Linked DNA regions of Homo sapiens. The protein of the gene in region 1 purifies or fractionates together with the protein of each later gene. This does not show direct contact. Each region holds a gene or a part of one and is shown on either strand. Other genes may lie near its edges. The genes, in order: CPLX3, ARL8B, PKP1, SIRT5, KLHL24, PADI3 and ACP3.

The links.
Region 2: the proteins of CPLX3 (region 1) and ARL8B purify together in Homo sapiens (affinity purification with mass spectrometry; 2 studies listed by BioGRID and IntAct, with this or other methods). This does not show direct contact.
Region 3: the proteins of CPLX3 (region 1) and PKP1 purify together in Homo sapiens (affinity purification with mass spectrometry; one large-scale study listed by BioGRID and IntAct). This does not show direct contact.
Region 4: the proteins of CPLX3 (region 1) and SIRT5 purify together in Homo sapiens (affinity purification with mass spectrometry; 2 studies listed by BioGRID and IntAct, with this or other methods). This does not show direct contact.
Region 5: the proteins of CPLX3 (region 1) and KLHL24 purify together in Homo sapiens (affinity purification with mass spectrometry; one large-scale study listed by BioGRID and IntAct). This does not show direct contact.
Region 6: the proteins of CPLX3 (region 1) and PADI3 purify together in Homo sapiens (affinity purification with mass spectrometry; one large-scale study listed by BioGRID and IntAct). This does not show direct contact.
Region 7: the proteins of CPLX3 (region 1) and ACP3 purify together in Homo sapiens (affinity purification with mass spectrometry; 2 studies listed by BioGRID and IntAct, with this or other methods). This does not show direct contact.

What each region holds. Positions count from the first base shown.
Region 1 is NC_000015.10:74,829,193-74,832,870, reverse strand, and holds the end of CPLX3 (complexin-3), read right to left. Parts: exon of another isoform or gene 3,170-3,678; intron 2,742-3,169; coding exon 2,517-2,741; 3' UTR 1,069-2,516; downstream 1-1,068.
Region 2 is NC_000003.12:5,177,273-5,181,774, forward strand, and holds the end of ARL8B (ADP-ribosylation factor-like protein 8B), read left to right. Parts: intron 1-1,391; coding exon 1,392-1,441; 3' UTR 1,442-3,639; downstream 3,640-4,502. UniProt on the Homo sapiens protein: Small GTPase which cycles between active GTP-bound and inactive GDP-bound states.
Region 3 is NC_000001.11:201,317,881-201,322,382, forward strand, and holds part of PKP1 (plakophilin-1), read left to right. Parts: intron 1-737; coding exon 738-915; intron 916-1,935; coding exon of another isoform or gene 1,936-1,998; intron 1,999-2,386; coding exon 2,387-2,501; intron 2,502-4,097; coding exon 4,098-4,253; intron 4,254-4,502. UniProt on the Homo sapiens protein: A component of desmosome cell-cell junctions which are required for positive regulation of cellular adhesion.
Region 4 is NC_000006.12:13,601,815-13,606,316, forward strand, and holds part of SIRT5 (NAD-dependent protein deacylase sirtuin-5, mitochondrial), read left to right. Parts: intron 1-2,661; coding exon of another isoform or gene 2,662-2,704; exon of another isoform or gene 2,705-3,925; intron 3,926-4,502. UniProt on the Homo sapiens protein: NAD-dependent lysine demalonylase, desuccinylase and deglutarylase that specifically removes malonyl, succinyl and glutaryl groups on target proteins.
Region 5 is NC_000003.12:183,682,821-183,686,021, forward strand, and holds the end of KLHL24 (kelch-like protein 24), read left to right. Parts: 3' UTR 1-1,699; downstream 1,700-3,201. UniProt on the Homo sapiens protein: Necessary to maintain the balance between intermediate filament stability and degradation, a process that is essential for skin integrity.
Region 6 is NC_000001.11:17,269,191-17,273,692, forward strand, and holds part of PADI3 (protein-arginine deiminase type-3), read left to right. Parts: intron 1-1,042; coding exon 1,043-1,221; intron 1,222-1,688; coding exon 1,689-1,792; intron 1,793-1,876; coding exon 1,877-1,988; intron 1,989-4,149; coding exon 4,150-4,257; intron 4,258-4,502. UniProt on the Homo sapiens protein: Catalyzes the deimination of arginine residues of proteins.
Region 7 is NC_000003.12:132,344,494-132,348,995, reverse strand, and holds part of ACP3 (prostatic acid phosphatase isoform PAP precursor), read right to left. Parts: intron 4,070-4,502; coding exon 3,937-4,069; intron 1-3,936. UniProt on the Homo sapiens protein: A non-specific tyrosine phosphatase that dephosphorylates a diverse number of substrates under acidic conditions (pH 4-6) including alkyl, aryl, and acyl orthophosphate monoesters and phosphorylated proteins.

The DNA.
Region 1 (3,678 bases):
CCAGTTGGGCCAAGTCAGCCCCCAGCTGCGGGCAGATACAGGACAGGCACTGAGCCAGCAGAGCAGCAGGGCATGAGGGCACACAGGTGAGAGGGGTGCAGACTGACAGAGACCCAGATTGCAGGGCTGATGGGGAGGGGGAAGGAAGAAGGGAGGCCAGGCATGCCCAACAGAGCCAGGGACCCCTCAGCCTACCCTCATTGTCCATCTCTATCTGAGCCCCACAGCCTCCTCCACCCCATTCCAGGGATAGTGCAAACTGGTCAGGGCTTCTTGGAGTTCCGCTCCCAGGGTGAAGGGGAAACTAATGTGGGGGCTCACCCCTCTCCCGACCTTTAATCCAGGTTCCAACCAGCCTTGCTTTGACAGGGTTCAGCGAGTGCAAGTTCCCCAGCCCCCACTGCCCACCACCCCTGCCTCTCCTTCTCGGCCCTGCGAAGCACTGAGGGGGAAGGGGTCTGTCGAATCCCATTAGGCAGAAGGCCCCGGAGGGCGGAGTGCTGACGTGGGCCTTGCTGCTGATGCTGCGGAGGCAGCCCATGACCCCCCTACCCGGCTTGGGGCTCTGGCTTGGGTCTCCTCCAGCTCTGAGAAGGTCAGGAGGAGGCCCTGGCCTGGGGGCAGCCCAGGAGCAGCTCAGAGGCCCAGGCCCATTCCCTGGGGACACTCAGGAGAGTGAGACCAAGAGTGACAGCTTCAGCAGCAGACTCCAGGGCTGGGCCTGTGTCTCTCCCTGCCCTGTCTCCTCTCTTCCAGCCCCGCATGATCTCCTGTACAGGTTGTATATGCCTTGTTTTTATTTTACAAAGGAGACCTCATGGAAACTTTGCCCTTGAAACCCAATCCTCAGACAGCCGCTCCTGCCTGTGAACCTTGGCTGGCTTCCCTACAGGCCGGGCCCTGGACCTCGGGGTGGGGCACCTAGGGTTGGCCCCATAGCACCTTCCTCCTGCCCAGGCCCCTGGGGCGACCTGCTTGGGGAGCTTCCTGGCTGGTTTCTTAAACCTCCCCTGACCCCTGCCCCTCAGCCCCTGCCACAGGTGAGCGGGATGAGATCTGGGCTCTTCATTTTTTTAAAAGAATGAGTTACATTTATTGATATGGTTTGTCATATGCTTTATAAATGGTCACCCTTTGAAACATGTATTATTACTATTTGGGGGAGAGGGGGACTGTTCATTTTACAGGGGACAAGCAAGACAGGCTCAAGGAGGGAAAGGACAGGCTCAAAGTCATCACAGTGTGGGGCTGGAATGCAGTTGCCCTTCCTTCTTTCTTTTTGCACATCTTCCGTCTCTAGGGTGAGGAGGGGTGTAGGCACAGGCACCCAAGACAGCTGCGGTCCAGCCCCGGCCCCACCTGTGGTCTCAGTGACGCCCCAGAGGCCCCATCTTCCCCACATAATGAGGCTGCTCCATCCTCCTCAAAGCCCAGACCTATTTCATAAGCCCCAGACCCCACCTTCACCCAGGGCCCCAAGAGAACAGAGCTGGAGACACTTCTACTCCTAGCACTGGATGCCTTCTCCCCTCCTGTGAAGCTGTAGGTGGGGGGTGGAGGACACCCCTTTAAGGCAGGCTCGGGGGGCTATGAACTCCAAGACTCCTGGAAGCCAGTAAGAAGTGGGAAGGTAGGCACACCATTTGGGATTTTTATTTTTCACTGAGCTAAGAGAGGAGATTCCAGCTATGGAATCCAGAGAGCGTTCTACAGGAACAGAACAGAAATTGGCTGGGCCCTGGGCCCAGAGGAGGCCTGGAGCCGCTTACTGTTCAGTGCCAGCTTCATCCTTGGCACTCTGCCTCTCACACAGCATCGCTCCGGCTCCCAGAGCCCACAGTGGCAGCCGCTGGAGGCTGTGGCAGCAGCTGCTGCCCTGCCCAAGGAGGGATGTGGGCTTGGCTCTGACAGTTCAAGCCAGAAAGAGCCTTAGAAGTCATTCAGGACATTCCCATTTTACAGATGATGAAATAAGGCTCAGAGAGAGCAGGGGCTTTCAAGAACAATAAAGGTGGAGACTGGAACTCAGGCCTCCTGTCTGCTGAGGGTGTCTGCCCATGCTCTCTCTCAGAGTTTCTGAGTGGTGGTGTCTGGAGGGGCTGGACACGCAAGGGAGCTGGCCTCGTGTGTGTCTGTCTGTGCCGGGATGTATCTGTGGCTTCTGTCTCTGAACGTGCCAGGGGTTTTGTGTCCTGTGTGTGTCTCTCTGTGGGTGCTCCTGTGTGCAGGAACTTGGGGCCATGGCCAGAGAGGGATGGGCCTATTCCTACAATCTTGGGAGGCCTCCACAGGCTGAGCTGGTGGGGAGGGTCCTGAAGGGTAGAGTGAAGATGGGGACTTTACTCCCAGCGGAGAGGAAGAAACCAGAAGATAGGCTTGGGGCATGGATGGGAAAGGTCTTGGAACTAGGATGGGGCAAGGGAAACAAAGCCCCAAATGGAGTATGGGTCCCTGGAAGTTGACACACTCTTAGCCCTCATGGGGGCCCAGCCCAGTGGGTAACCCCGGGGAAGTGGTCACATGACGTGACACTTCTCAGCTGATTGCTTGAGATCCCCCAGTGTGGCCTGGGCCTTGTCCTTGAGTGAGCCCAGGTTCAAGCCAGGAAGGCTGGCCAGCTGCCCAAGGACTGAGGCCTTCTCCTCCTCCTCCTCTGTGTCCTCCTCGATCATCTTGGCCAGCTCCCGGGGCAGCTCCACGTCTCCACCTGCCATCTGGATCTGGCTCTCATCTGTCTCGTTCTGAAGGGAAGAGGGGAAGAGGGGGTGGGGTGGAGTGGAAGTCTGTGAGGACCCAGAGTTGAGAGGACAGGGAGGAGGCTTGGACTGGGTTCCAGGCCCCTAGATTCTATTTTTTCTTTTTTTTTTTTTTTGTAGAGACGAGGTCTCCCTATGTTGCCCACGCTGGTCTCAAACTCCTGGGCTCAAGTGATATGCCCACCTTGGCCTCCCAAAGTGCCGGGGGAATACAGGAATGAGCCACTGTGCCCGGCCCCTTAGATTCTTGAGCCCCATGTTCCAGTGAGCTCAGCTCCCACCCCCACATCCCAGGATCAAGCGTTTGATGCCTGGACATGGAGACCTTTTTATATTACCTTATTTCACTCTGAGATGCTGAAGGACCAGCACAGTGAGTAAAGACAAAATGAAAATACCTATGAGTCACACTGTTACAGTCAGCTAAGTCATGTTTTGACTCTTGTTATGCTTAAGGGTGTAACCAAAAATAGTGATGGGTACCATTTATCAAACATCTATTATATCTATTACATGGCAGACGTTGAGCTGGGTGCTTTTAATTCTCACAATAACCCTGTGAGGTAGGTAGGTATTGTTATTTCCACTTCACAAATAAGGAAATTGAGGCTTACAGGATTTAAGTAACTTACTTTAAATTTAAGTTACTTAACTAACTTAAGTAACTTAAGTAACTTAAATTATCCAAGATCACACAGGCAGGATGTTGGGGAGCTAGATTCAAACCTATGTCACTGATTCCAACATCTGTGTTTTTTTGCATGGCACCTACGATGACCATTGCCCTTCACTATTCTTCTGGGGGGCGCCTTATGTCCTACTCAGTTGCATCCAAGTCTTGGCTCTTCTGCTCAACTCTGACTTTGCTGATGGCAGGTGTCTCTTATATGCCTAGCGCAAGCATCTGAGGAATGATTTTATT
Region 2 (4,502 bases), on another chromosome or scaffold:
CAAGGAATCTGATCCAGTCTAATAAGATCCACTCTAATAAAATTCGAAATAAGTATTTTGTAGATCAGTTCATCTGAGTATCTTATTTCTGTTGTCTTTTTGCCTATTCATAAAGATCCATTTGTCTTTAGGATATGAACTTCTATCAGTATCCACAGAGGCTTTGTGTAATTTTTTAGTGAATTTCTTTTTTTTTTTTTTTGAGATGGAGTTTCACTCTTGTGGCCCAGCTGGAGTGCAGTGGCGCAATTTTGGCTCACTGCAACCTCCGCCTCCTGGGTTCAAGTGATCTCCTGCCTCAGCCTCCCGAGTAGCTGGGATTACAGGCGCCCGCTGCCGTGCTCGGCTAATTTTTGTATTTTTAGTAGAGATGGGGTTTCACCATGTTGGCCAGGCTGGTCTCAAACTGCTGACCTCAGGTGATCACCTGCCTCGGCCTCCCAAAGTGTGGGATTACAGGTGTGAGCCACCGTGCCCGGCCATGAATTTCTTAAATATTTAAATTTGGTTATTTCACTTCAGATTTACCTTTCTCCCATTCAGTTCCAATGAGTGTGGCTTTGCTCGTATTGTGCACTGTTGTCCCCATTTTAAGGTGCAGAGGTGCTTCTTCAGTAGTTGGGTTAAATCATTGCTTCCACAATGGTGAACAGTTCATGTTTGTTATAGCTCAGCCCTGTGGTGTTTCGTTAATGCATGTTAGCTGGGAAACTGGTAGTGAATTTACCCTCATCTTTCAGGCTTGGAGAATAGAGTGGTGCTTCTGATAGACTCTCATGTACCCTTCTGAAGAAGTGAGGACAAGAATTACCCAGCCCCAGATGTCAAAAGGGCATGGTGTGAACCCTGCACCAGCCTTGGCAGTGACAGCCTCCTCTCCCATCCCTGTGCTTTAGTCACATTGTATCACTCACAATCCATCCAGAGCTCCACAATGTTTCATGCCTTTTAACATTCTTTTGCTGTTTTTTTTTTTTAACCTGGAGTTCTGTGGGGTGGCCCCCAAGCCCCGGGAATTACTGCATCTTTTCTGTGTATTATACTTAAAAGCGCCTTGAGGGCAAACAGGGGTTATTCCTTTTTTTTTTTTTTTTTTTTTGCCTTCCTGGCAATTTGCATGCAACACCTGATTGATTGTGTGGGCAACACATAAAAGGTGGCACCAGCCGTCCTATACACAACTTAATTTTTAAATCAGAAAACGCTTCAGTCTCTGATAATTCCTCATATTCTCTTGAAGTTCGGGTAATGGAGTATGGTAATGCAGATGCAGAAAAGCAGCAGAGGTCAGGCATAGTGTGTGCCTTGAATTAGCTGCCTTTTAAATATTGTCTCTGTTTGATGTTTAGTTTTTTAACTTTAATGTCTTCACTTTTCCCCTCTATCTTTAGATATCACACTTCAGTGGCTTATTCAGCATTCAAAATCTAGAAGAAGCTGAAGCATCTCCTGAAGTCTTCCAGTCCTTCTTGGCTATAATCCTAGAATTATTGTCCGTTCCTCTGAAGTAATTCCCAGAATACGGTCCTTCCTAAACCCCAGAAATTGCCTTTTTCAGAGTTTATTTCTCATGTGCACTGCTGAAGATGAATATCCCTAATCCTTCATAAAGAATCAGCTAGAGTTGTCATGATAAAGTCAGCACACACAAAAAGGCTTCTTACACATACCTGTCTTAAACCATGTGTAGAGCTTTAAAAACAGAAAAAAAACCCCATATACTTATGACCATCTTAAATCAAGAAAATTGCATATTTCCATTCTGGTCTTTCTGGGCCAGATTTTTATATTGGTTTTCAGTAAATGTCTATCTATAATATTTCATTATAGAGTCCAGTAGCTTAATACTGACACTGACTTGATACAGCATGAAGTTTCTAGTGCCACACACAGTATTTAGAAAACCTTTAGGCGTGAATGACTCATGTGGGATATATGTAAACATAATGTTTATTTTATCTCACAAATGCATGTGAAATGTATAATTACATCTTAGGAATCCAAAATGGTCTGCAGAGAGTGAGCGGAGGCACCAGATCAATGTTGGTTCTTTGCACTGGTGAGATTCTGCCTGATGAATATTAAAGATATCCTGCTTTCTGAGAACTCTATCACCAGATGGCAGTTGGGATATGGGAGGAACTAAAGCATCCTGTTTTGTATCTGTCCAGATCATTATTTCTGTCTCTTGTTTTTTCTTCCTGGTTCAGGATACTTTTTTAAGGGGTTGAGAATTGAAGATTTTCCAAAAGCGTTCATGAATTTAGAGCATTCCACCCAATATAATAAAACCTGTTAAGAATGTCAGTCTTTGTTCAAACATCTGTTTGTTCTATCTCCAGTCATTAAATCAGTGCTGCTGCATGACACTCTTAACTCCTGACTTTTTATATCCAGTCATAAAGTTGACTTTCAGCACAAAAGATACTTATAAACAAATAAAAAATTTTTATTTTTCTCTCTTACTGATGTAAGCTTTGGCACTCTTTTGACTGGTGCCATTAGACATCTTGATTATTGTGACAACTCTAGACCTGCCTGCTTTATCTAATGTAATCATGCTCAATGTCTACAGGTTGTTTAATAATCAGTCACACAGAGAACTGAGGAACTGATGCTGTTTGTTTGCTTCTATGATACAGAGATGTCTAAAAACTTCAAATGGACATGTTTTGTAGTTTAGCGACTTCCGTATACATAAAGGGACATATTAATACTGGTTCATTTGTAAATTATTATTCATATAGACCACTGTAGTAGATAAAACTCTATGGTACACCTGCTTATGTGTTGCCTCACACTGTGTGTGATTTTGTTTCTTTTGTTAAGCAGCACTTATGTAGACTGCATTTCCAAATGTGTTGAGCACTCAGAGTGTAGTCAACAGTAAGTTCTTTTAATGAATATCAGTTTTAATTTATAGACTGCCATGGCCTTAAAAATATTCTGTACAATATACTGCACTGTGTTGCACAGACACTACTTGCTTTTCTCCATTCATATTTTTATGAGTAGAATCTGGGCTTTTAAATTTCTCTTCTTATTCTTTGAAGCATGTTGCATACTACCCTGGTGGGATGGATGGTTCTGTAAATGAAGGGATATTTAAACTTGCTACTGTTGTTCAACACCATTAATGGTCAGTGTGAACCATTACAAAGAATGTGGCAACTTGCTTGTGCCTAAAAGGAGGAATTGGAACTAGAATGTGTGACTCTGTGGGGACTGCATAGGTTTGTTAATTGACCTATAGCTAAACCTTAATGTGTTTGTGTGTCTATACATTGCTTTCCGCATTTCAAGACATCCAGACGCTATTACCAACATTTTCCTGTGCATTAACCTCTGCATGTGAAAACTTTTAACAGTTACTGAACTATGTAAATATGTGAATTTTTTTATTTAGGTGGATGCATTTTTTGTCTGTTTACTGCTCTTCTCAGCTTTATTCAATAAACTTGCATTTTAAGGGTTGTATTGGCAATTTTAACTTAAAATGTGCATCATGATGGAAGGTGCAGACTTTTTTGGAAGTTTCCGAGAGGAGGGTCTATAGACCATTTGTCAGAAATCAGATCAGCCCTCAAAGAATGGGGTCTGTGGGCTAGTTAAAATAGAAATAAACTTTTAAAATATCCACAGAATTGATATTGTGATTTTTTGGGGGCGGGGGAAATGCTACTACTTGTCAACGGTCACAATACACCAAATTTAGGACTTTAAGTGGCAAGTGCTAGTAAAACATTTTATGTCCCAGTTTTTACAAATCAAACCAAGACCCTGCTAAGCAAATGAAGTTGCAAGACATGCCTATTCACTGACTTCAGTTCAGAATGGAAATATTTTAAGTACCGAACATGCTGGTTTTCCCACAAAGGCACATTTTTAGCATAAAGCTTTTTGCTAGTTTGGTATCATCTGCCCATAAAATAAGTCAATACTTGAGCTATTGGAAAAATAATTGTGTATATTTTTATTTGTTTAGAAAGGTTCAGTTAGCATTTTCTCCATACGCATACTACAATTCTGTACAGCCAACCCTTAGTGGCCAGTTGGATGCATGATTTCGCGTTTATTTCCCTGGAACGTCACGTTGATGTGTTTTTGTCTTTTCACTGCATTACTGGAGCCATGTAGTCAAGCATCAAGTTTCATCCACTTCTCACCATTCTCCTACCAAGGGGGTGAGTGTGTGAGAGTTGAGGGTGAGGATGGGGGAACACGGAGGATATACATTTAGCTTAATTCTAAATGTGTATCTGCTTTTAAAAACTTCTAAACTTATAAAGTTGGTCTTTGATTCTGTCAAGTAAATTGGGTGTTTGAGGAACTAACTGCTTTGTCTGTTTGCTCCATGTAGGATTGAGTTACACTGATACCCTGTTGATTTGGTAATTCCAGCTGCTCCAAGGGTCTGGTGGGTTCAGAACTGGAATGGAAGCTTAAACATAATGTAGTGGGCATCATGCTGTAACATCCAGTTGGCCAAATGCTTTACTCTA
Region 3 (4,502 bases), on another chromosome or scaffold:
GACACAGCTGTGCAGATTTGGCCCAGGGCTAATATCCTGAGAGTTTAGTGACACTGGCCTTGGCCCAATTAGGGGTGTCCAGAGGGTGACCTTGGGTGGTGTGCACACACAAGGGGTCACCATCTTTTTGAGGTTAAAGAGCAAAAGGAGGAAGGCTGATGTCCAGGCAAGATCCATATTCCACAAGCCCTGGGATTCCCAGGTGATGGAAAGAGAGTAAGACTGAGGGGAGAAGGGGTTAACAGGCCTTAAGCACCTACCCTGTGTTCAAGAAATATGGTAGGCACTCAAGGTGGGGGGCACAAGAGGAAGAGGTCACCGTGAAGACCTAGAATTGGGCTGGGAAGATCAGACCATGTACAGAGTAATGACTGATAAGTATTTCTGGCATAACTTTCAGATGGAAAAGAGACAGCGTTAGAAGACTCCAAGTGCTAAAATTTATACTAAAAACCACTGATCAATCAAACGTTTTTTGATCACTTTCCACATGCATAATTTTGGCCTTGACAGAGAACTCTGAGATGTTCCCTGCCTGCAAAGAACCTTCAGTCTGGTTGGGGCATTGAGAAATAGCCTCATGACACAGACAGACAATAGGTTCTACAGACCAGGGCTACCTGGAAAGCGACATTTCAGTAGGGCCCATTTGCCAGAGTCCAGGCTGGGGCTGTTACCTCGGTCCCTAGGGCATCCTGAGCCTGGCACAAATTGGGTTGATGGTCTCTGACCCCCAGGGCTGCTCTGGAACCTGTCTTCCACTGACGAGCTGAAGGAGGAACTCATTGCCGACGCCCTGCCTGTTCTGGCCGACCGCGTCATCATTCCCTTCTCTGGCTGGTGCGATGGCAATAGCAACATGTCCCGGGAAGTGGTGGACCCTGAGGTCTTCTTCAATGCCACAGGCTGCTTGAGGTGAGAGAAGAGGATACATGGGGTCTTTTTGTCCCAGCCTTGGGCCCTTCCCCAGGCAGCCCCATCTCAGCCAACATTCAGCCGGTGCATAGAACATAACAGACAACCCGGCACTCCCTCTTATGGGCAGGCTCCAAGACACAGGGACTCAGGCCTTCCTAACTTCCCTGGAACTGGATAAGGCCCAGGACCCTACCACCCCCTTTGAGAGAATGCAGCGGACATTAGTCAGAAATCTGAGCTTGAAAATGCCTAGATCTGAATATCCAAACTGGTTCAACCATTTCCCTCCTCCACCCCATGAAAAAAAATGCATTTCTTGTGCTATCATCTTGAAGAGTGTTCTTTTAGACAAAAGTCTACCGATGGGTTGCTAATGAGTCACTTCCCAGCTGTGGTGTTAAAACCATTTGCCATGTTCATTGGCATGAAGATGGCACTGCTTCACCCAAAGTTGCCTAAGTTCCATACCAGGGTGTGGCAAAGCCCCTGTGGGGCTGGTGGGAGGGCTTGTTCTAGAAGCAGTGGTTTACAAGCTGGCGAAATGGGTGGGTGTGGAGGGGCGGCTGGTACAGGGCTTGGAACCCTGGAGCAGGATCCCTTTTAGGGTCTTTAATGGGGTTTGTCTTGCTTTAATGGGATTTGTCTTTCCCAACTCCTGAGAATCCCCCCAGAGTGGTGGGTGCAGCTGGCATGTGCCTCTGTGTCTCAACTTGTGTTTCTCCCTGCCAGCCTCCGGTAGCAGCCTCCAGGAAGCAGAGAGGCTGGGGAGATGAAAAGTGAGGATAATTAAGAGTTTTATGGGGTTGATGTGCTACTGGTAGCAACAGCAGCCACACCCCACCTGCACCAGGCTGATGAGCCCACATTGCTTGGGGATGAGCCCACATTGCTTGGGAGTGAGCCTACTGCTGGGGGCAGAACACAGCTTGGGTGGAGAGGGAGCTTCTGGTGCCCAGCCCGGCCACCCCCAGATCCACTTCTGATCCAGCATCAACAGGGCTTCTTCCTGTCCCACAGAAAGAGACTGGGCATGCGGGAGCTTCTGGCTCTTGTTCCGCAAAGGGCCACTAGTAGCAGGGTGTGAGCCTTGGGATGCAGCTGCGGAGGGACCGTTGCCACATGGAGCCATTGCCAGTTATAAAGTTACTGGGCAGAGTGAAGGAGGAGAAGAACTGAGTGCAAATGAGACCTCATTTCAGCCTCAGCCAGGGCCAGGCGGAATTGGCTAAATGGTTTCTCTTTCCTTCCGTTTTCATCTTTTCCTCTCTTCATTCCTTTCCTCCCTTTCCTCTTCTCCTTCCTTCCTTCTACCACAACTTCCAATCTCCACCCCGTCGTCTCCTCTCTGCCCTCCCCTCTCCTGCCTGTTCTCTCTCCTGCCTGTCCCCCACCACACTCTCTTGTCCCCACCTTCCCCGTTCTCTCTTCCCCCTTTCTCTGCCCTCTTCCACCCTCTTCTCTCCCCCAGGAACCTGAGCTCGGCCGATGCAGGCCGCCAGACCATGCGTAACTACTCAGGGCTCATTGATTCCCTCATGGCCTATGTCCAGAACTGTGTAGCGGCCAGCCGCTGTGACGACAAGGTGAGTGCATCCCCTGGTGGCACCCTGACCCCTAGGCCCAGCCCCCTACATTTTCTGGGTGCCTTTGAGGCCTGGCCCAGTGACAAGACAGGAGCACAGACTCAGGGGTGGTAGAAGAGGCATCTGGATGCAGGGCTCAGTGGTGGCTACAGGAGTGGGCTCTGGGGACAGCGTGCCCATGCAAATCCACTCTCCCTCACTTAGAAGTGGAGTAGATGCAGCTGCTTCCCTAATCTCTCTGTTTCCCGGTTCACTCTTCACTCTAATGGAAAGGGTCATAATCATATCAACCTCAAGGGTTGTCTGAAAGGCTTGATTAGTTAATAAGCAAAACACGAAGAGGGCCTGGCACAGAGGAAGCTCCCAGCGAGCATCTGCTGGCTGTGCTTCATTGGTGGTGCTGAGGCCTGTCCTGTGACCCCGAGCCCTGCCCCACAGCCCAGAGGAATCCATACTGGTGCCCCCAGGGCTTAGTGTCCCCCCTGAGATGAGGCTCCTTCTGCCACTGCTATCTTCCCACTGCCTCCCAGAAAAGCCATTGGCAGTCATCTTGCTGCCCTCTCTGGACTTCTGGACACACAGCACAGACAAACAGAAAGAAAAAAAGTTGTGGAGGGCAGATAAACAGAAGGCTGAGATGTTCCCACCATGGCAGGACAGTGGCTCAGGAGATAGTGAGGCCCAGCAGGCTCCAGATCGCCAGGGAACGGGCTGACATCACAGCACCTGGGTTCTCAGCACAGTTGCCGTAAGGAGGGATTTTATCTCCTGCTCCCTCCACTGGAAGCAACAGCAGGGCCACAGAGGAGAGCCTTGTCACTGGGCTGCTCAGCCTGCTTCCAAAGGGCAAGATGCTTTTCTGCTCTGTGTGCAATATCTCCAACACCTGTGTAACCCCAAGCCCTGGAAGTCAGATTCCCTTAGACCCCAGCAAGGGCCAAACATCATTAGGAGGGTAAATCTGCTGCCCCCAAACCCTAGTCCTTTGGAGGTTTGCCAAAGGAGATTGACAAAGATCTGAGCCCAGCTGCCATGATGAAGCCCTGGGCTCCAGGTGTTGCTGTGTTTTGTGTGGACTTAGCACCGCTGACATTGACAGCTAAGGACTGGCCCCAGGAAGAAAGAATGATGGGGGCACTAGATGGCTTTGGAATCTAGAGGCATGGGGCTTCTTCTGGAGGAGTTTGTTCTGGAAAAAAAAAAAGACACATTCTTCAATATCCCAGTCTGCCCATTGGCATGTTGTCCATAGCAGTCCTACCACACACTAGGCCCTGTGATAAGTGCTTTCTCTGTATCATCTTCCAAATAGCCTAGTGAAATGGACAATTGTAGTCTCATTTTACATTTGAGATAGCTGAGGCCCAGAGAAGTGAGGCCAGTCAAGTTCATGCAGCCAGGAAATGACAGATTCAAACTCAGGTCCCAGAGGTGGCCCTGGAAGACTTCCCAGGCTGATAGTGTGGTGGTGCCTGCGCTCATCTTTCCCGATGCAGCCCAGGTGCCTCTGCTCTCTTATTAGCTAGGGTAGGTGGTAGGCCAGGAGCCTGTCGGGCCGGGCAGAGGCTCAGGCCCATGCCTCTCCTTGGTCCCCAGTCTGTGGAAAACTGCATGTGTGTTCTGCACAACCTCTCCTACCGCCTGGACGCCGAGGTGCCCACCCGCTACCGCCAGCTGGAGTATAACGCCCGCAACGCCTACACCGAGAAGTCCTCCACTGGCTGCTTCAGCAACAAGAGCGACAAGATGATGGTGAGCACAGCATCAGCAGGGCGGGGCCTGCCCCATCAAGCACCCCCCCAGGAGCCACTGCCTCATCTGCCCTTTCCTCTGGGCCCTCCTGGAGCCTGAAGCCAGCCCTAAGGGACAGGCCCATGCTGACACCTTGGCCTGGGGCTCAGGGTGCACTCTGGGAGCTGGGTAGAGGCCATTCATCTTGCACAAGGGGGAATCTGTTCTTGGAACTGTAGGGGCTCAGACCACCTTAGAGGTCAAAAACTC
Region 4 (4,502 bases), on another chromosome or scaffold:
TCTTCTAAGTCTTTGCTGGGATTTAAAAAAAAAAAAGAAAAAAGAAAGAAAAGGGGCCACAGACACTTCAGTAGGCCCCTCCTCAAGTGAGTGAACTGGCTCTGAGCCTCTTCTTTTCCATGTGTCTTTTTGATCAGCTACAGCCTGTGTTCTTGATCCATAGTTCTTCATCTGTGTGTGAGTAGTAGGAACTAAGAAGATAGCCTTAAAAAAAAATTGCCTCCTATGCAAAACTTATACTCTGAAAACTACAGAACATTATTGAAAGAAATAAGGAAGGCCTAAATGAATGGAAACATATCCAGTGTTCATGGATTGGACAACTTAATATGATTAAGATGGCAATGCTCCCCAAATTGATCTATGGGCTCAATCAACTCAGTCCCTATCAAAATCACAACTGGCTTTTGACAGCAATTAATTGAAAAGATTAATCTAAAATTCATATGAAAATGCAAGGGACCCAAAATAGCCAAAACAAAATGAAAAATGAAGTTGGAGAACTCATACTTCCCAATTTCAAAACTTACTATGTATTAACTAGGCATGATGGCACATGCCTGTAATCCCAGCTACTTGGGAGGCTGAGGCAGGAGAATCGCTTGAACCTGGGAGGGGGAGGTTGCAGTGAGCCGAGATTGTGCCATTGCACTCCAGCCTGGGCAACAAGAGTAAAACTCCGTCTCAAAAAAAAAAAAAAACTTACTACAAAGTTGCAGTAATCAAGACAGTGTGGCACTGGCATAGGATAGATATATAGAATCAGTGGAGTAGAATTGAGAGTCCAGTAAAAAACAAAACAAAACAGAACAATAAAACAAACCTCACATTCATGGTCAACTGATTTTTGAAAAGAGTGGCAAGACAATTTGATGAAATACAGTCTTTTTCAAGAAATAGTGCTGGATACCCACATGCAAAAGAATAAGCTTGGACCCCTCTGTCACACCATTACAAAAAATAACCCAAAATGGATCATAGACCTAAATGTAAGAGCTAAAAGTATAAAATGTCAAAAGAAAATGTAGGAGTAAATCTTTGTAACCTTGGGTTAAAGCTTTCTTAGATATGACACCAAAAGAGCAAGTAACATAAGAAAAATGGATAAATTGGACTTTATCAAAATTTAAAACTTCTGTATTCCAATGGGTACCATCGATTAAGTAAAAAGACAACCCACAGGCCGGGTGCGGTGGCTCACGCCTGTAATCCCAGCACTTTGGGAGGCCGAGGCAGGTGGATCATGAGGTCAGGAGATCGAGACCATCCTGGTTAACACGGTGAAACCCCGTCTCTACTAAAAATACAAAAAATTAGCCGGGCGTGGTGGTGGGCGTCTGTAGTCCCAGCTACTCGGGAGGCTGAGGCTGGAGAATGGCGTGAACCCGGGAGGTGGAGCTTGCAGTGAGCCGAGATCGCGCCACTGCACTCCAGCCTGGGCGACAGAGCCAGACTCCGTCTCAAAAAAAAAAAAAAAAAAAAGACAACCCATAGAATCGGAGAAAATATTTGTAAGTCTAATATTTGATATTTGATAAGGGATTTGTATCCAGGATATATAAAGAACTCTTACAACTATAAATAATAAAAAGACAATCCAATTAAAAACCAGGTCAAAATATTTGAAAAGACATTTCTCCAAATATATACACATGGCCAATAAGCATATTGAAATGATGTTCAGTAGCAAAACCACAGTGAGATACCACTTCACAGCCACAAGCGTGGCTATAATTTTTAAGATAAAGGAAAATCACAAGTGTTGGTGAGGAAATTGGAACCCTCATACATGGCTGATGAGAATGTACAATGGCGCAGTCATTTTAGAAAACAATGTGGCATTTAAATATAGGGTTACTATATGATCTAGCAATTCTACTCCTTGGTATATAGTCCTAGAAATGAAATCATACATCTACACAAAAATCTGTACACAAATGTTCATAGCAACTTGTTAATGGAAAAAGTAGAAACAACCCAAACGTCCATCGACTGAAGGATGAATAAATAAAATTTGGTATGTTTGTACAATGGACTATATTTTAGCCATAAAAAGAACGAGATATCCATACATGCTACTACATGGATGACCCTTGAAAACGTTATGCTAAGTGAAAGAAGCCAGTCATAAAAGACCATATATGGTATGACTTCATTTATACGAAATATCTAGAATAGGCAGATCAATAGAGAGAAGGTAGATGAGTGGTTGTTTTGGCTGGGAGTAGGGAGGAATTGGGAGTGGGTGCTAATGAGAACAAGTTTCTTTGAGGTTGTTAAAAATGCTCTAAAGTTGATTGTGGTGATGGTTGTATAATTCTGTGAATACACTAAAAGCCACTGAATTATATATTTGAAATAGGTGGATTGTATGTGAATCAAATCTCAATAAAGCTGTTAGATAAAAAGTTAAATGATCTTCTAACTTATCTCCTGAAAAATGCACATTGAGCCTCCGTCTGATTTGTGTTGTGGCACCTATGTGGAGCAGCTGGGCCACTTAGCATGACTAAGCGTAGTAATACCGGAGCTAGGCAGCTCAAGCCTCCTGTCTGTTTGAAAGACCATCAGAAAACTCGAAGAGTGGGACAGGATAAACTTTGTGAAGCAGGACCTGAGCTATGTCCCCAGTTTGGTTCTTCTAATGTGGTTTCTTTTCAGTCATTTGATCTCCATCTCATCTCTAATTATTATAAAGAATTAAAACAAGTCATCATTGTAGAAAAGCAAGAAAATGCAGATAGAGAAAAAGAAGAAAATAAAACTGGAGTATTTCCACAACCCAAGTTTAGAGTTGGCCCCCACCTCCCATGCCATGGACTGAGCAGCAGGGGCCCAGCATCCCTTGGATATGGTGGCTGTGTCTTCATGTGAAAGAAACTGAACTTGGTGGTTTTTCCTGCCAGTTCAGGAGAGATTCTTGGCATGTAATATATATCACTGCTCAAGTCAAGCCTCCTAAAACCACAGACCTGTTTCAGCTGCTACTTCAGCCAAAATTCTTCAGCTTCATATTGTCTTGAAAACCTATGATTGTCTCTAACAAACAGGCTACTTGCTAGTTAGAAATTCTTATCAATTTGGCAAGCTACTTATCAACCAGACTGACCACAAGAACTGTCATCTCATCAATGAAGGAGTAACTGATCAATGAAGCCAGCAATGCTTTTTTCTTGGCATCATCAAAGCTGACATTTAGAAGAGATGCTGGTGATAGTCATCTCATCCTACTCAATTTTTCAAAGGCAGAAACCAACCCTGGAGCAATTGAGAGGACTGTTTAAACACAGAGCTTAACAATGGCAGAATTGTATATCTCGTGCTTAACAGATTTTGGTTGAACTTTACCCTAGGTCAGGGGTCAGCAAACTACTGCCTGTGGGCCAAATTTGCCCACCACCTGTATCTGTAAATAAGGTTTCATTGGAACACAGCTGTGGCCATATGTTTGTATATTGTGTGTGGCTGCTTTTGCATTAGGATGACAGAGGTGAATAGTTGCAACAGAGACTGGCTGGTCTGCAAAGCCTAAAATATGTCCTGTGTGGCCCTTTACAGAAAAAGTTTTCTAACCCCTGCTCTAGGTTACGGAGAAAAAAAAAATGGAATAATGTTCTCTGCTACTTTTAACCTGATTTTCTTTGTTACCTAAATAGGCAGCTAGAATGCTGCCTATATTTTAATAAGGATTTGGATCTCACAAGACACCTTAGGCCTTACACAAGTTGTTCAGATTCTTTGCCCCAGTTCTAATCTAGTGACAAAGGCATAGAATTCTCCTCCCACAGGAATGTATTTCTATTTTCAAGGTGTTAATTAGTTCCAGTTTTGGTTTTGTCGTTTTCCCCATGTCCGATGCTTATATTGGATGATTTCTGATAAACCCTGACTATTCCAATAAACCCTAGGCATTTTTGAATTTAAACCTCAGTGTTTTGACTGTTACTCAACCCCAGGGGGCCTTGGCTTGTAGGATTTGTACATTCGCTGAGGCAAAAATGGGACTGTCGCTGCAGGGAGCTGGTGGCCAGGGCCTTCAAAGCACCTTTGGCCCACTGTGCCCTGCAGCCACTATGTTGTGCCCTGTTGATCTTTAAATTTCTCTAAATGTTGGAATTTAATTAAAGTCCACAAATATTTGTAAGTATCCACTATGTATCAGACACTTTTCTAAGTGCTTAAGATAGGATATATCAGTAAACAAAACAAATATCTACCAAGGAAAGATTATATTCTAGTGGTTGAGGCAGACAGGTAAGCAGTGAACATAAGGTACACATTCTACAGCACGTGAGCAGGTGCTAAGAGACTGCACAAAGTAAAGATGCACAAACCTCATTAAGAAGAGATTGGAGCAAAGACTTGAAGGAGGTGAAGGAGGCAGCCGAAGACATAATCTGGGATAAGAGCTTTTCAGACACTGGGACCACCTGGAGCAGAGGCCCCTCAGTGTGGCTGGAGTGGAGTGAGGAAGTCCCAGGAGAGGCGAGCAGTAAAGTAAT
Region 5 (3,201 bases), on another chromosome or scaffold:
TTAAATTGCTGTGAGAACCCATATATGAAAAGAGAGGAGTTGAATTGTGTGTGCCTTTTATGTCTTGAGATTTATATGTGGAAAAGACGACATCTACTTCAAACTGTATTTTTTTCGTTTTTTTTTTTTTTTGGGGAAGGGGGGAGAACGGGGTCTTGCTCTGTCGCCCAGGCTGGAGTGCAGTGGCGCGATCTCAGCTGACTGCAACCTCCACCTCCCGGGTTCAAGGGATTCTGCCTCAGCCTCCCGAGTAGCTGAGACCACAGGTGCGTGCCACCACACCCGGCTAATTTTTTTGTATTTTTAGTAGAGACGGGGTTTAGTAGAGACGGATCACTCCTGACCACGTGATCCGCCCACCTCGGCCTCCCAAAGTGCTGGGATTACAGGCGTGAGCCACCACCCCCGGCCTGTATTTTCAGAGAGGAGAGCTTGGTGTTTTTGTGGTGCCAAGTGGTAAGATAATGTCTCTTTGAGGCTTCCTATGGACTGCCTTTATTTTAGTAAACTCAAGACACCAGTTAACCTCAACAGAGTTTTGGCCTTATTAGAATTTGTTGTGCATCTTATTGAAAGCCAGGTTTACATCACCTCACCCCATTATTCTTTTTAGTTAAATAAATTTACCATGCCAAGTAACCAGAATGGAGCAAATTGGTTGATCTTTAAGGCAGTAGGTTTGACTAGCTAGCTATCATTATTGTCACATCTAATGCTAGGCACCAGAAACCATTTGAGCCAGGAGTGTGAATGAATAATTCCAGAGACACTTTAGACATTTTTTAATGTTTTATATGAACATTTTACATTTGTGTGATTGCCTTAGATATTAAATTTTCCTAGTGCTGATAAAAACAGCAACATTCATAACTTATTTTATATATTGTTCCAAAGAAAAGAATTTGTTTTAATGGTTTCAAAATAACTGCACCTGAATTTGTTTATGTGCCTTAAGTTCTCTAGTGCTATTTCAACTTTTTTTTCAATCTAAATGAAGCTTACCTTAGATAAGGTTCATATTTGTTTCCTATAGAGTAAATAAACTTCCCCTTCTTAAATTGTGTAATAAGCACCAACGTGTGGTTGCTTGGCAGAATGAGAATGTTAAGGGAGATTGTTGGATGTTTGGAGTTTCATTATATTTTTTGTTTTTATTTTTTGATACCTAGGTGCTTTTTAAAATATTCAGACAAATATCTATCTTACATTGATTAAACCCGTGTAAATTCATTTGCAGTATCTACATCGAATGTCAAAAAAGTATACTTATTTTTGTTCCATACTTATGTACAATTTTTTCCCTCTTCAGGCTTTTTCATTTACCTTTTTGAAAAAGCACTTACTCTCCCCTTCCCTATCACCCCTCCCCCAAGGTTTCTTTATTTAAATTTTTATTGAGAGTTGTTGGAGCTCTAAGACAATACAAATTTAGAGTTGAACAAAAGTATAATCTGCTTTACAACTAGTATAGACCTAAGGTCATTTGCTTTCAATTAGAGGCTCCAGAGTCTTCATAGTGGAAAGAATGCTTTGTATTTAATTGTTCTTAGTTAAGTTGTAGCACGTGAATACTTACTTACATGTTTTGTTTAAATATACTTCTTGCATAGTTTAATTTTTTAAAAGTTGTATCTAATAAAATGTCTTTTAACCATTATTACTTGACTATATGGTTGTATTAAATTTTGTTTACGAAAAATTTGTTGTTCTGTTTTATTTTAAGTATATTTAAGGGGTTGTGCAAAAAAGAGATGGGGAAAATACTGGATATATTAATATATGTGTGTATTTACTGGTATGTCCATAAAATAACTGGAAGGATAAATAAGAAACTGAAAATATTAGTGTGTAAGAGGAAAGGAAATGGTGGCTGAAGGACAAGTAAAAATGAAACTTTACTGCATACGTATATGTGTGTAATTATAAATACATATAAAATCAATTTTTTAGTCTGAAACACACGAAAGTATTCCCTATTCAAAAAAAAAAATTTTTTTTTTCTTTTTTTGAGACGGAGTCTCACTCTGTCACCCAGGCTGGAGAGCAGTGGTGCAGTCTTGGCTTACTGCAACCTCTGCCTCCTGGGTTCAAGCGATTCTCGTGCTTCAGCCTCCTGAGTACCTGGGACTACAGGTGCATGCCACCACGCCCGGCTAATTTTTCTTTTTATATTTTTAGTAGAGACAGGGTTTCACCGTGTTAGCCAGGATGGTCTCGCTCTCCTGACCTCGTGATCCTCCCGCCTCAGCCTCCCAAAGTGCTGGGATTACAGGTGTGAGCCACTGCACCCAGCCTCTTCTATTATACTTTAAATTTTCTGTTTAAAAAAAAATGACCTGGCTGGGCACAGTGGCTCACGCCTGTATTCCCAGCACTTTGGGAGGCCAAGGCGGGAGGATCACGAGGTCAAGGGATTGAGAACATCCTGGCCAACATGGTGAAACCCCATCTCTACTAAAAATACAAAAATTAGCTAGGCATGGTGGTGTGTGCCTGCAGTCCCAGCTACTTGGGGAGGCTGAGGCAGGAGAATCGCTTGAACCCAGGAGGCGGAGGTTGCAGTGAGCCAAGATCGAGCCACTGCACTCCAGCCTGGGCGACAGAGCGAGACTCCGTCTCAAAAAAAAAAAATAAATAAAATAACCTGCTGTCTTAATGGAATGTGGAGGGAAATGGACTATACCTGCCTTCTGCTTCTCTGCTATTTATTAACTGATAATGGAGACAGAAGGGATAGTTTCCTCCTAATTATGTTAGGATATATTTTTTTTTTTCGAGACAGGATCTCACTGTGTCACCCAGATTGAACTGCAGTGGCACAATCATGGCTCATGGCAGCCTCAATTTCCTGGACTCAGGTGATTCTCCTACCTTAGCATCCCTAGTAGCTATAGGACTACAGATTCATGCCACCACGCCTAGCTAATTTTTAAATTTTTTGTAGATACAGGGGGTCTTGCTGTGTTGCCCAGGCTGCTCTCAAACTCCTGACTTCAAGTGATCCTTCTGCCTTGGCCTCCCAAAGTGCTGGGATTACAGGCATGAGCCACAATGCCCAGCTCACATAAATCTCCTATACAAAATATAGATATCAACATTGTACAAGGAGTATAAATTAAGAGTCAGAAAAATCATATGAGCCTTCCCAGCTATCAGATTATCATATCAATCAATATTAAGATTTTTTCCTTTAAAACAGAC
Region 6 (4,502 bases), on another chromosome or scaffold:
TGATTGTCACTGTTAACGAGTTGGGATGTGTGCTTCCCAACTTTATTCTACATGTTCTCCAGCGTGTGTCCATATGCTGCTTTCCAACCGGCTTCTTTCATTAAGTAATAATCCCACACACCTTTTCTGGTATTTATTGAGCTCTACTTCATTCTTTTCCACTGCTGTATAATATTCCTAAGCATAGAGGTGCTGTGACTTACACAGTTCTCTGAACATCATAGTGGTTTGCAGTGTTTTGATTTTATAACAATGCAGGTTGCTTGAGGTCAGGGGCTTTGTTCAAGTCCAGAACCGTGCCCCATGGGTGCACTGTAGTTGCACAGTAAATATTTGATGAATTAATGAATATCGAGCACTCTTGTACAGAAATATTATGTGACTTTGTACCTATTATTGTTTGTTTGTTGTTGTTGTTTTGTTTTTTGTTGGTTTTGGTTTTTTTTGAGATGGATTCTCGCTCCATGCCCAGGCTGGAGTGCAGTGGTGTGATCTTGGCTCACTGCAACCTCCGCCTCCTGGGTTCAAGCAATCCTCCTGCCTAAGCCTCCTGAGTAGCTGGGATTATAGGTGTGCACCACCACCGCCCGGCTAATTTTTGTATTTTTAGTAGAGACAGGGTTTCACTATGTTAGCCAGGCTGGTCTTGAACTCCTAACTTCAGGTGATCCACCGCCTTCGGTCTCCCAAAGTGCTGTGATTACAGACATGAGCCACCGTGCCCAGCCTGTAGATGTATTTTTGTAGGAAAGATACCTAGCAGTGGAATTGCTGGGCTTGGGGTAAACATTACTTTGTTGGATGCTGCCAAATTGTGCTCCAAAAAGGTATGAGCGCCAGTCTTAGAAAGGAAGACCCTTTCCCCCAGCCGTGGCCCCCACTGTGTATTACCTGTCCTCTCCTTTGCCAGTGGAGGTGAAAGGAGGGAGTTGTTGGAGGACTTGGAATTTTTGGTGAGGCTGCAGACCTCTTCCTGTGTCCCTCATACTCATGCTCCCTGGGCCCACAGGGAGTCACAGCCACCCCGTCCCTCCCCTTCCAGGTCCTGAGGATGTGTGTGAGGCCTATAGGCATGTGCTGGGCCAAGATAAGGTGTCCTATGAGGTACCCCGCTTGCATGGGGATGAGGAGCGCTTCTTCGTGGAAGGCCTGTCCTTCCCTGATGCCGGCTTCACAGGACTCATCTCCTTCCATGTCACTCTGCTGGACGACTCCAACGAGGTAGGGACAGAGGGGGTTCAAGAGGAGCTCCACTCGGGACCAGCCTGGGCAACATGGTGAAACCCCATCTCTACAAAAAAAAAAAAAATAGCGAGGTATAGTGGTGTACACCTATAGTCCCAGTTACTTGGGAGGCTGAGGTGGGAGGATCACCTGAACCCCAGGGAGGTTGAGGTTGCAGTGAGCCATGATCACCCCACTGCACTCCACAGCCTGGGCAACAAAGTAAGACCCTGTCTCCAAAAAATAATAATAATAAAGGGCAGTGGGGAGGACTCCATTCCTGGTAAGTCTACCAGGCACCACTGGTGTGAAAGACCCCAGACTTCTTGACCACCCCTCTGGTTCATTTCCATCTTGCAGAGAAGCAAGGGGTTTTCTTATGGACCACAGTGGTGGAATCAGAGTCCCCCCAGGCCTCTGGACTCCAAGTCCAGTGCTCTTTCTCCCCTGGTCTGCCCCTGCAGGATTTCTCGGCATCCCCTATCTTCACTGACACTGTGGTGTTCCGAGTGGCACCCTGGATCATGACGCCCAGCACTCTGCCACCCCTAGAGGTGTATGTGTGCCGGTGAGTCTTGGGGCAGTGGGTGGTCCCTCTGGCCCCCAGGCCCCGGCTCCATCCTGAGCCCCTCTTCCCTGGGCTTGTCCGTAGTGTGAGGAACAACACGTGTTTTGTGGATGCGGTGGCAGAGCTGGCCAGGAAGGCCGGCTGCAAGCTGACCATCTGCCCACAGGCCGAGAACCGCAACGACCGCTGGATCCAGGTAACCACAGCCACTGGGCAGGGCCCAGCAAGGACGCCATCCTGGAGAGAGAGGCCTTCATTTGGGGGCCACCGAGAAACATCCAGGAGGACCTGGGTGCTCCCCAGGGAACTTGCTGCCGTTTCTAATGTGAGACCTAGAGGCTTCTCTCCAGAACCTTCTGGAGACCCACGCTGATCCTGGATTCAACACCCATTCACCCACCGGATCTGGGCTAGGCACTAGGCTAGGCCCACAGGGGTGGCACAGGTGTGAGACACACACTCCCTGCCCTCAACAGCTGAGACCAGTGGTTCTCATCAAGAGGCGATGTGTCCCCAGGAGACGTTTTGCAGTATCTGCAGACAGTGCGCAGGACAAGCCCCCACAATAACATATCATCCAGTCCCACGCCTCAGTAGTGTCGAGGCTGAGAAACCTTGATGTGCAGAATGATTGCTACAAAAATACCTACTCCTACTATCTAGTGTGTAGCTGGGGCAACATGGTGAAACCCTGTCTCTGCAAAAAAGTTAAAAAATTAGCAGGGCATGGTGGCGTGTGTCTGTAGTCCCAGCTACTCTGGAGGCTGAGGTCAGAGGATCACCTGAGTTTAGGAAGGTCAAGGCTGCAGAGAGCTGTGATTGTGCCACTGCACTCCAGCCTCAGCAACAACAACAAAAAAAAAAAAAAAAAAAGAGAGAGAGAGAGAGAGAAAAAGAAATATCTAGGGTGCAGAGGCTATACCAGCAAAGCACCAGTAGGGTTTGGGGGATGCAGCATCACCTCTGCCCAGGGAATCAGTGAAGACCTCCAGGAGGGAGAGCATCTGAGCTGGACCAGATTTGGCAGATGAGGGCACATGACTTCTGCCATTTATGCCCCATTTTCTGCAGGCCAGGCATAGCATCATTTCATCTTCTTGATAACCCCCTGTAAGTCCCCCATAATTCAGGAGCTCTTAGGGGAGCATGACTGGGCCACAGAGCTGGTAAAGGCAGTGCTAGGACTCAGGCTGCCAAGCACCAGGCTGTACAGGTTGGTGGTCCTGGCAGAGACCGAGCATGCGCAAAGGCCCGGGGGTGGGAGGCAGGAGAGAGAACCTTGTGTGTTCTCCTCTGTCAGGGCACTGGTTCTGAGAAAGGCAAGGGTTGAGGTCGGAGACCTTGAATTCCAAGTTAAGGAGCTTTCCTCTTGGCCGGAGGTCAGTCCAGTGAGAGGGTTTGGGGCAGGACTCTGGGGCACGATGGGCTGGGTTTAGAGCCTGGCTGTGCCACCAACTAACTAGCTGTGAGCTTTGGGACAAATATTTTTTAATTTTTATTTATTTTTTTAAATTAATATATTTTGAATTTATTTTTCTTTTTGGAGACAGTGTCTCTCTGTCACCCTGGTTGGAGTGCCATGGCATGATCACAGCTCACTGGCAGCCTGGAACTCCTGGGTTCAAGTGATCCTTCTGCCTCAGTCTCCCGAGTAGCTGAGACCACAGGTGCAGCCACCAGGCTCAGCTAATTTTTTGTAGAGATGGGGTCTTGCCATGTTGCCCAGGGTTGTCTCAAACTCCTGGCCTCAAGCAATCCTCCCGCCTCACCCTCCCAAAGTGCTGGGATTATAGGTGTGAGCCACCGTGCCCGGACTGGATAAATAATTAGACCTCTTAGTTCCTCATTTTCCTCATCTGTCACATGGGATAATTATGGTGCCCACGCCCAGGCATGTCATGAGGATGAATGGAGTTAATGTTTATAAAGAGTTTAGGGCAGGACCTGGATGTGAAGTTCATTCACACTGGGCCATCTTTTCCTCCAGAACCAGAGGGGTCAGGACTGACCTGGGCACATTTATGGATCCAACTCAGGCCACTGTGAGTGCTTCTCTGTGTCCACCTGCCTTGGCCCAGTACTCACAGGGACACCCCCAAGGTCATGTCCATGTTCTCGTTCACCTCCGGCCTCTGTCTTGCTGTGTGACCTTAGACAAGTGCACCCCCTCCTTGAGCCTCCAGCCCCTCCTCCAGTCAGCAGGCACCCTGACCTCGGTCCTGTCCGCCTCCAAGCACAAAACATGCTTGGGCCAGGGGACTTGGTGAGCAGTCTGCCCCACAGGGCTCAGAGCCGAGCCAGCAGGGGCAGCTGTTGACTGTCACAGCTGTGCGTCTCTCGCCTCTCCTCACTTGCAGGATGAGATGGAGCTGGGCTACGTTCAGGCGCCGCACAAGACCCTCCCGGTGGTCTTTGACTCCCCAAGGAATGGGGAACTGCAGGATTTCCCTTACAAAAGAATCCTGGTGAGTGGTCCCGGCCGCAGCCCACCCCTGAGAGCTGAGAGGCCTTACCCCAGGGGCCACACCGGGGTGTGGGGTACAGAGGGCAGCAGTGGGAACCGTGCTCTTTAGGGATGAGGGTAGGGTTGCCAGATAAAATGCAGGGATGCCCAGTCAAATGTGAATTTCAGACAAGCAACAGGTTAACTTTTTGGTGTAAGTACGTCCCAAATATTGCATGGGATATACTTACACTAAAAAAGTTGTCG
Region 7 (4,502 bases), on another chromosome or scaffold:
GTAATGAGCAGGGCATTGATATTAACAGATTGACTATAATCTCAGGTTCTGTAGTCCACTCAACAAACACACACTGAGCAGCTATGATGCGCCAGATACTGTGCTAGGAGAATCAGACCTGGTCCCTGCCCTCCAAAAACTCATAAAATAGTAAGAAGAGACAGGTCTGTACACCAGTAAGTATAAAAAAGGGTTAATTAAGGAGGTAGGTATCTGCTCTTTCTATAAGATACTGGAAATTCCTTGAGGATGAATAGGATAATCTGAATGTACATGTCTAACAGGTCTAAATCCCTCCATCTCAGAGAGGGTTGCCCTGTGGAATGCATTAGGGACTTTAGCTTGATTCACATGCCATGTTGGTGCTAAACTCTGTGGCCAAGCTTTTGGGAGCCATGACAGCCACCTGAAATCAGCAAGTTGCCCTTTGTCAACAAGTGCCTTTTAGTCAGGCTGCAGTTTTGGTCATGAATATATCAGTTCTTGGTTCTGGTATGATTACACCCTTATCCCAGGAGTGATTAGGGGTGACTATCATGATTATCCTCAGGCTCTGGCATATCAATATTCTGTTTTATAGGGGAAACTGAGGCTTGGAGAGGCTCAGAAACTTGATTAGATTATACAACTTGCAAGCAGAGAAGGAGGGCTTTAAATCTAGCATGTCCTGTGTCAAAACCTTTATTTGTAATCATTAGAACATGCTATCGTGGAAAGCTAGCTTCAAAGTTATCTGTTGTATCCTTTATTAAATCTTCGTAAACTAGACAAAAATATCATTGACCTGAAGACATAAACTTTGCTTCCTTCATTTCTAGTCTACAGCAGAGGTTGGCAAACTTTTCTGTAAAAGTCCAGAGAGTAAATGTCTTAGGCTTTGTGGGTTAAAAAATCTGTTGCAACTACTCAGCTCTGCGGTGGTAGCATGAAAGCAGCAATAGACAATGCATAAATGAATGAGTGTGGCTGTATTTCAATAAAACTTTATTTACAAAACCAGGTAGTGGGCTGGATTAGGCATACAGGCAGTAGTTTGCCAACCTCTGGCCTAGAGCAAGAAGAGCTCTCTTTTCACTGATATGACCAGCCATATGATCCTAAATTTGCCCCAGGGATTTTTTTGGTGTGTGTGTGTGTGTGTGTGTGTGTGTATGTGTGTGTGTCTTACTGAACAGTGTCACCCCTGAAGTTAAATGATGAAATAAAAATTCTAGACTGGGCACAGTAGTTCATGCCTATAATCCCAGAACTTTGGGAGGCCAAGGTGGAGGATCGCTTGAGCCCAGGAGTTCAAGACTAGCCTGGGCAACATAAGGAGACCCTGTCTTTGCAAAAAATTTAAAAAAAATTTAGCTGGGCATGGTGGTGCATGACTGTAGTCCCAGCTACTTGGGAGTCTGAGGTGGGAGGATCGCTTGAGCCTGGGAGGTCAAGGCTACAGTGAGCCGTGATCATGCTGCTGCACTCCAGCCTGGAGGACAGAATGAGACCCTGTCTCAAAAACAGACACAAAAACAAACAAAAAATACAAAGAAACAAAAACAAAACAAACTAACAAAAAAACTAGCAAAGGTCAGAAGATGGCCCTGATGTGTCCACATTACTCTTTGTCACCTAGACAATGTGTGTTTTCTGTGCAGGAATGTGTGCAGCTGTTTCATCATTCAATAAACATGTAGTTGACAAATCTCTCTTGCCCAGCCAGATCTGAATAATAGTCTGAGCTTTTGTTTTGGCAGAACCACACAGGAGAAATTTTCCTGCTTAACAATGGCGCTGGACTTTTTCCAGAAAGCAGGACAGCTGGTTTCATACAAGTGCCAGCCTTTAGAATCCAAGATCAGAGAACAACTCAGAGAAGGACTCTTATAGACAGTCTAGTTTAATCTCCTCATAGGTAGTGAAACAGAGATCCAGAGAGGGGAAGTGGCTTCTCCCAAATGTAATCTTCTAGTAGGCAAGGGAAATAAAAGAGGAAACATGAGGAAAGTGGAGCAACTCCATTTCTTATTCATACATACACATCCCTACATCTACTATTAGACTACTGTCAACTCCTGTCTGGTATAAAGCATGTTGGGATTTTATTCAAATGCAGATCCTGATTCAACTCGTTTGGGAGTGGGGCCTGTGTTTCTAGCCAGGTGGTAGTTGATGCCGATGCTGAAAAGTAGACTGCACTTTGAGTTGTGAGGGACTAGGTGCCTGAATCCACCATAACTAGGTTGGGGGAAATAAATCAAGAGTCCCGCTTCCACCATTTGATGGGGCTTGCAACTGAGTCACACTGCTGGCACCTGGTGGGCCAGAAATGAGGCTGAGTGCTTATGTGGCTTCCAAGGCACCCTCTACATCTTTTGTTGTTAAGCACTTAAGATTGAGCTTCTTCCTGGGTTCTGCCCATAGACACAGTCTGTATCCCGCCTGGTAATTTTTTCCAACACTCCAGCTTCCATCTAAGACTCCTCTCTGGAGACTCTCCCTTCCTCAAGGCTGGATCTTGTTGCTCATGTGTTTAATGTGAAGTAAGGACTTGCACATTTCTATCAAGTCTGTCTCTGTGCCATGCAATCAGGATTTTTGTAATAGCAGATCTACAACAACCTCATGTCGTTAATGGCCACTGTCCTAAATTTTTTGCCCCAACCTACTTTATTCATCTCACATGAATTTGCTCCTGACCATCCTGGTTTCATACCTCATTCCCCTGGTTACAGCTTGCCTCACTCTTTATACCTGGTGTGCAGCCCTGCTTTTCTAGCTATAATTGATTCCTTTTCTGGTCAGTGATTTGAATTTTTTCCCTAGTTAAGTAGCCTCAGTGAACAACCTCCCAGTCTGGTCCAGCCCTAATATGCTTTGCCTCTATGCATTCTCTTGGGATTTTGATGGACTTGTCCTGATGCTGTGGTGAATAGTGTCTGTCAATGGCTGGAATCATGATGTGATTGTATTAATCTCAAAATGCCTTGAATATGTGTGTCAGCCTGACTTGGACCATCTCCTGTGGCTTGGACTTTCCTCATTACGTCAACCTGACATGATGAACTTTCTCTTCTTCTTTATCCCTAGTTTTAATACCTATGATAACCACATCTAAGTCTGACACCTCATTTGGTATCTTGGCCTGCCCATCCAGTTTCTCTCATAAGCCCCAACATCTGTCCTTGTCTTTGCTGGTCCTGACTTTTTTCTTCCATCCACTTATCCTGATTACAAGAATCCAGCATCCTCTTGCCTGGGTCTGCCTTCATATGACAGGGTGTCCTGTGCTACGAAGAGCCAGTTCTAACCAAGAAGAGGCATCACTGATAAATAAATCTCAACAGCTTTCAATGTCAATGAAAAATTTCAAGCTGTGTTATAAACTTGTCAATTGCAACATATTTTAACAGCACATAATTGGTCTGAAAAATATAACAATTAGCCTGAAAAATATATTTTATCGGCTTTCACAATGACTACCACTCAGGGTTTCAGGAAAACAGGCCACTTTTGTCATACCTCCCACTTGAAAAATTCATCATATAGGCCACAAGACACAATTGATTTTCATGTGGCTCAGACACAGATCCTTGATTTTTGATCTGGAGGGGATGGAAAGGATCATTTAGCTTTAGCTTTCATTTTCCAGATAGAAAACTAAGGGCTTGAGTGAGTAATAGTTATGATTATACTAACATATGACATTTATTGACAGTGTATTATGTACCAGGTACTGTTTGCTCTAAGCCATTTGAATACATACATTCATTTTAATACTCACTGTCTATGAAGTAGGTATCATTAATATCCCCATTTTGCAGAATGGAAGCTGGTGCAAGAGTGATTAAGTGAACTGTCTGAGATCACACAGTTGATTAGTGGAGGGAATGACTCAGACCTGGATCATTCAACCACAAATCCAATATGCTCCTCTCATTTTTTAATACTTACCCCCTTGGAGCCTAGATTTCTCTTTCTGCTTGTGAATTCCATAGAGGGACAGGAGGGACAATTCTGACAATTCTCTCAACTTAGTCATGGTGTCCTCAGTGGCCCAGGAGGGTAAAGTGAAATTGTGAACACTCTGTAGCAAAGAAAAAGGAAGAAAAATGTATGTGTATTTATATGACTGTCCTCTTTGTTGACTTATCCTTTTTCACCTCACAAGAACTAGTAGGGCCAGACTTTCTTGTCCTGCCATTTCTTTCTAAAAGAACTTCATATTGTGATAAGTAGTGGTATTGACTTTCAGAAGAAAAGCTTATATAAATGAATTTACCCATTCCTACCCAGTCCATAGCTTTTGGTTTAACTCTGGATCAGTGGGTGGCTCATATTTTGCAGAGTAAGGGTGCAGTAGGGAAATAATACCTCATTCCTTTATGAAAGGGTTAGAAATCTTTCTATGAACCTGACAGAGTTAAATGATATTTCCTTAAAAGCTGAATGGGCTGCCTGAGAGGCCAGTTAGGAAAGGCAATATATTTCTGGAGCCTTCAGTAATATATTCTCCCCTA